2 separate regions of the Homo sapiens genome follow, and region 2 is linked to region 1. A link means that fine-mapping ties the variant in region 1 to the expression of a gene that starts in the linked region. Tissue or cell type: thyroid. Region 1 holds a variant in brackets; the other region holds the start of a gene. All regions are shown on one strand. Distances are between the middles of the regions.

Region 1 (2,757 bases):
CACTCTATGAACCTTCTGAAATGTGAGTATCCTGGATTCCAGCCCACGGCCAGCGCTGGGTTGTGCGTAAGGGACATGGACCTGTATGTGTCCTGGAGTGAGAGATGGCAGGGAGTAACTCAAAGCATAGCTCTCAGAGTCAGATGACCCGGCTCAGCTAGCACAAACTGGCAGTGTGGTCTTGGTGAACCCGATAACCACCTAGACCATCTGTTTCTTCTTCTGTAAATGGCAGCCATGGCCTCGCTCTCACAGCACGGTGTGTGACATAGTCTGCCCCTGGCTGAATTGCCACCTGCACCTCCCATAGCCTCCTCTTAGGTCCCTCTTCTTAAGACATGCCTAACCTCCCTGTGCTGAGATGTCCCCTGTGCTCAAAACTGCCTCATTAGAGAGGCCTCCTCATCCTACAGACGAGGTATTAGCCTCCTTGCCCAGGCCCTCTTTCTCTCATTCTCCCACTTTGCTTTTCTGCCTAGCACGCGTCTCTCCCTGCAATTATATGATGTGATTATTTGTTTGCTTATTAAATCATCTCTCTCCTCACTAGAGGGTAAGCACTGTCAGGGCAAAGAGTTCTTTGCCTGACTTGCTGCCATCGGGCCAGCACTTAGAGTAGCCCCTGTTGGTGTTCAGTGTGGAAATCTAGGAGGGGGAACACCCTTGCAAAGGTGCCCTCTGGAATGGTGAGTGGAGTCCAGTGTTGAGAGGTGGCAAGACCAAGACAGACTCAGCCACCTGCCTGCCGTCCTACCTTTCCATTGATTCTTCCCAGAATTCCACATGGAGATAATGAGTTCTCATTTCATGTTTAGAAAGAGTTGGAGGAGGCAGAGGAGAACTGCATGCGTGTGGGCATGGGCGGGGGGGACCTCTGATATAGAAAAATGAAAGATGATTTTGTTTTTTCTGATCAGGACCAAAGACCAAGCTATTAGATATTTCCTTAAGTGCTTTTTTAGTGTGGATTTGGAGAAATAACTTGGAGGGATGATTGCTCTCTGCCCCCACTTGTACAGTTCTTAAAATGCTGGAGTTGGTTTTTGCTATTGAAAAAGGCAGGCAGCAGCCCCCAGAAACCTCCTGAGGGTGCAGATGAGGCAGGGGCCCCAGCAGACCCCCAGCTGATGGACACAGTGTCTCCCCTTTTGGGCGTGGCCTGCTAACAATGACCTTTCTGGAAAGCCTTTGATTCTGGCAAGTGTCCTCAGGCTTCCTGGTACCTGTGACTGAGAAGAGTCACCTGGTGAGAAAAACAATGTTTTCTCTGGTCCAGTGACAGCACTCAAAACCTCTCCAGGGGTGAGGGAGAAGTATGCAAAATGTTCCTGGGGTGGGCTGGGTGTCAGATGACTCCTAAAACAAACGGAAACAGACACTCAATGGAACCACAGTGGACTCTCC[A/G]ACATTCCAGAAAAGTGGGGCGAGGACCGAGGGGACTCTCCAAGATTTCAGGGAAGTGGGGTGAGAGCCCCAAGAGTGTTTCCTACAGATGGGCAGGGCAGGATTTGAGAGTAGGTGGAAAGTGTTTACAGCCAAGCAAGCCAAGTTCGTTAATTAAAGGGTGGTTTAAAATATTGCGCCCAAGGGTCCCGGCATGAAATTCATCAAATATTAGAGACCTTGAAAATTGGTGCATGACTTTAGCAAGCAGAAAAGCTCAGCCAGTAATGTAGTGAGCACCATGTACCTGATACCTAGGTTTAGGACATTTTAGCACTTTGCCATATTTTCTTCAGATTTTATTTTCTAAAAGTAGAAACTGTTATAGACACAGTCGAAGTCCCCTGTGTATCCCTCCCCAATTCTTTCTCTTTCTTCCCTCCCTCTGAACTTGGCTATGATTTCCAGGCATGTTTTTATTTTATTACTACAAATACTCTCTCCATAAATAGCTATATTACTGTATGTATTCTTAAAGTTCATGCCTAATGTATAATATAAAGCTGTTATTATATAATAATATATAATATGTATACATATAAATTACAAATGATTATGTCCTTATACAGACAGCCTTCTGCAACTAACCCTTTCTTTTTTTGCGGGGGGGATGGAGTTTCATTCTTGTTGCCCAGGCTGGAGTGCAATGGCCTGGTCTCAGCTCACTGCAACCTCCGCCTCCCAGGTTGAAGCGATTCTCCTGCCTCAGCCTCCCAGGTAGCTGGGATTACAGGCACCTGCCACCATGCCATACATAATTTGTTTTTGTATTTTTAGTAGAGACAGGGTTTCACCATGTTGGCCAGGCTGGTCTCGAACTCAACCTCAGGTGATCTGCCCACCTTGGCCTCCCAAAGTGCTGGGATTACAGGTGTGAGCCACCATGCCTGGCCAACTTACCCTTTTTGTTGTTCAATGTTATGCTTTGGGGATTTGCCTGTTTTCATACAGAGAGCTGCAGTTCAGTCAGTTCAAGTCTGAAGTCTAGAGTATTCCACCAGGTTAATACACCACCAGTTATGTATTCATTTTTATGCTGTGGGCATTTAGGATGTTGCAAGTTTGTGCTGTTACTTCAATTAACACTTTCCTACCAGTCTGCTTGTCTTCTTGCTATAATGCGTCTAGAGGGTGTATCTAGGAGTGGAATTCCTAGGTCAAGGGATCTGCAAATATCCAGCCTTACTATATGTTGCCAAACTGGACTCCACAGTGATCAATACCAACATAAACTCTCACTAGTGTTGTGGAACAGTTCCTGTGGCCCTGCCTGCTTACCAGACATTTAGTGTTGCCAAAATGTGTAACTTTTGG
Region 2 (2,757 bases), 210 kb after region 1:
TCTGAGAGTTGGATCTGAAGGCCAACACCCACTAGCAAAACCATCATCCCTGTAATAACAGCAACCCAAGCAGATTTGATTTCTCCAGTGAAGGTTCTAGATGAGTCTAATCAAGGCTTCCCACCCATCTTCTCCCAACACCAGAGTTTCCCTGTGAAAACGATCATGGTTAACTCGCACTGAATACTATTTATGTGCCAAGTACCATTCCACATTCTTTACATATTTTAGCTCACTTTACTCCAACGGGGACCATTATTCCCAGTTTGCACATAAGCAAATGGAGCCAGGGAAAGCAAGGGGCAGAACAGGGAACTGATTTCCCGGAGTTTCGGCCCAGAGTCAGTGTGCTTAGCCACCGCCAACACCAGCCCCAGAGCTCTAGGCTCCTGGAAGTCGTGCTCCCGAGTCCTTCCCCTTGCACAGTGGAGAGAACTCGATGTTGGAATGAAACCAGCTAATTCCAGTAGGGTGCTTCCGCTGTTGTGAGGAGCTGGGCAACTAGTAAGCTCACTGAGCCTCACTGTGCTCCACTATAAAACCAGGAGAGTGCGCAGCAGAGGAGAGGGTCTGGGTTTCAGAATAAGAAGCAGGTTTTCTTCCTGCTCAGCAAATCCTGGGTAATTGTATCATATCCCCTAACCCCTTAAACCTCAGCTAGAGAGGGCGCCAGTCTTAGCCCCAGGGAAGGCTTTCGTGTGCACATTGGAGACAAAGCCTGCCCAGCAGTGCCCGGCACAGAACTGGGGAGCTGTTGGGATAAGCATGGGGGTGGACTCTCCCTGGGACAGATCCTATCTCACAGCAGTTTGGAGAACTGTTGTATACACACGCAGGTGACACGAGGCAGAGCAGGATGTGAAACGAGCGCAGTGGTTTGCCAAACCCGCAGCAGGCTTAGGACGGAGTGGTGAGAACAGCCCCCTTCCTTTTCCTCAGCTTGACGGTCCCAGCCTTTCCCATTGCGGACCTAGAGCCCAGACTCCCAGGGCAGAAAGCGCCCCACAGACTGATAAAGGTGAACAATCCAGGCTTTGTTTCCAAGGGCTTTATCCCTGACTTTCCAACTGGCTTTTATCTGTGTCTTCACGTCTCTGACCTCTTGAGCCTCACAGGAGCTAGACTAGAAGGTTCAAGTTCTTGAGGAGAAGGCAGGGGCGGGAGAGCCCCACTTGCGGGAATCTCGTGCGGACCGAGTCGGGGCGGGAGAGGGCGCGCACCAGCCAGGCTAGGGCGCGCGGGGCGCCGAGGGGCGCGGGGCCGTTTGGGGCCGTTCGGGCCAGTTCGCGCGGCGGGGCCCGTCGGAGCTTTTCTCTCGGCAGCCTGGCTGGCCGCGCGTCTTCTCCGCGCAGCGGGCGAAGTCGCGATGGGTTCATTAAGGCGGCAGGTAGGCAGTGCCCCGGCGGCGGCTGCGGCAGGCGGTCCTGGAATGTGCGAGGGGCGTGATGACAGCGGCCAGCCTCTTTGCGCAACACCTTCGCCATATATACCCGGGGCGCTGCGCTCCACCTGGCCGCCGCCTCCAGCCCAGCACCTGCGGAGGGAGCGCTGGTGAGTACCGCCGCCGGGGCAGGGGCGCTTCCTCGCTCTTTCAAGGACTTTGATTCACTTAATTCTTGCAAATACCTCTCGGTGCTGACTTCAAGGAACTTGGCTGGCTTTGGGCCGCAGAAGTGAAAAACACAAAGCTCTCCACAATGTTCAAGTTGTTTTCTTCTTAATGTTACGGTTATTGCTTTTATTACAGCTTTTGCTGCTACACTCTTACGATCGACAGTGTTATTAATCAGCCACACTTGTGGATTCTAAAATGATCACTGTTTTGAGAGTCGTGGTTTGGAAGAGGAAAGGCCCAGGGGATAGAAATCTCCACCTAGGAATCAGGATAGCTAGGCTCTTTGTGGCTGGGTCACCAACTAGCCATGTGACAACGCTAGTCCCTGTGAGCCCCTGGGCTGCCGTCTTCCATTCTTTATAAGAAGGGGAATGCGACATCTCAGGACCATGAAAATTCTAGGTTTGTGGTGGCTGCCTGGTGATGTGACACTGCCCCCCACCCAAGTGTGACTTCCACGTGGTACAGTGCTTGTTTGCAGTTATTTAAGGTGCCTAGGAGACAGTCTTAGTTTGTTTCTATTAGGGCCCGTGGCCATCAGCGAAGGGTCCGTCCTTCAGCCGTCTTGGGGAGCAAAGCCCGCAATTTATGTTTTCCAAGCCACAAATGGGTGAGCAGGCTGGGGAGATAACTTACAAGGAGATGTGCACAGGAGTGGTTGGGTTCGGGGACTGCGCATCCTCAGGCCAGAAAGTTGGGGGCTGCATGGCATGGAGTTAGTTCAGGTTCCCTGCAACGGTGCCTGCCACCGGTGGCTCGCACTGCGCTGAAGAGAGTTGGAATCTCGTTTTCTTTGAGGAGGTCCCTTTTTCAAACATGTTGATTTCATGGAAGCAGCTTGTGGATTTCATCACTCGAGTCCCCTCTTCCTGTTTGGGTGCCCCAGGGGGTTTCTGTGTTAGCCCTGATCGCTCTGGGCCTTGTCGTTCTTTCCTTTTTCCTTCTTCCCTTGTGTGCTGGCAGTTCTTTAACTTGTCCTGGGTTGGGTATTCTTGGAAAACTGTGCTTGTAGGAGTGGCCGTTGTTTCAGATTGTTAAAGAAAAACAAAAATAAAAAAGATTGCCTCTTTTGTCCCATGCCCGCTGATCATGATCTTCTCTGCTTTTGTAATTTGGGGAATGGGTGATAAGAAAGGCGTGCT

Direction of the effects. Alleles are on the strand shown, and positions count from the first base shown. SD is a standard deviation of normalised expression in the study named.
As copies of G replace A in region 1, the expression in thyroid of the gene that starts at base 1,512 in region 2 goes down (small effect, 0.21 SD a copy in GTEx).

Evidence for each region. PIP is the estimated chance that this variant, and not a neighbour inherited with it, causes the effect.
Region 2: it holds the start of SLC34A2, and the variant in region 1 is fine-mapped to the expression of SLC34A2 in thyroid (GTEx, PIP above 0.99). The same link has a PIP of 0.9 or more in lung.

What each region holds. Positions count from the first base shown.
Region 1 is chr4:25,445,467-25,448,223 of GRCh38, forward strand. It overlaps LOC105374536 (a long non-coding RNA gene), which reads left to right. Exons shown (of 4, transcript XR_925494.3): 3 at 1-22. Among named protein-coding and RNA genes, the nearest start is that of ANAPC4, 70 kb to the left of the region's middle. The variant A/G (reference allele first, on the strand shown) is at 1,405.
Region 2 is chr4:25,654,340-25,657,096 of GRCh38, forward strand. SLC34A2 (solute carrier family 34 member 2) reads left to right here and starts at 1,512. Exons shown (of 13, transcript NM_006424.3): 1 at 1,512-1,551. RefSeq lists an enhancer at 962-1,875.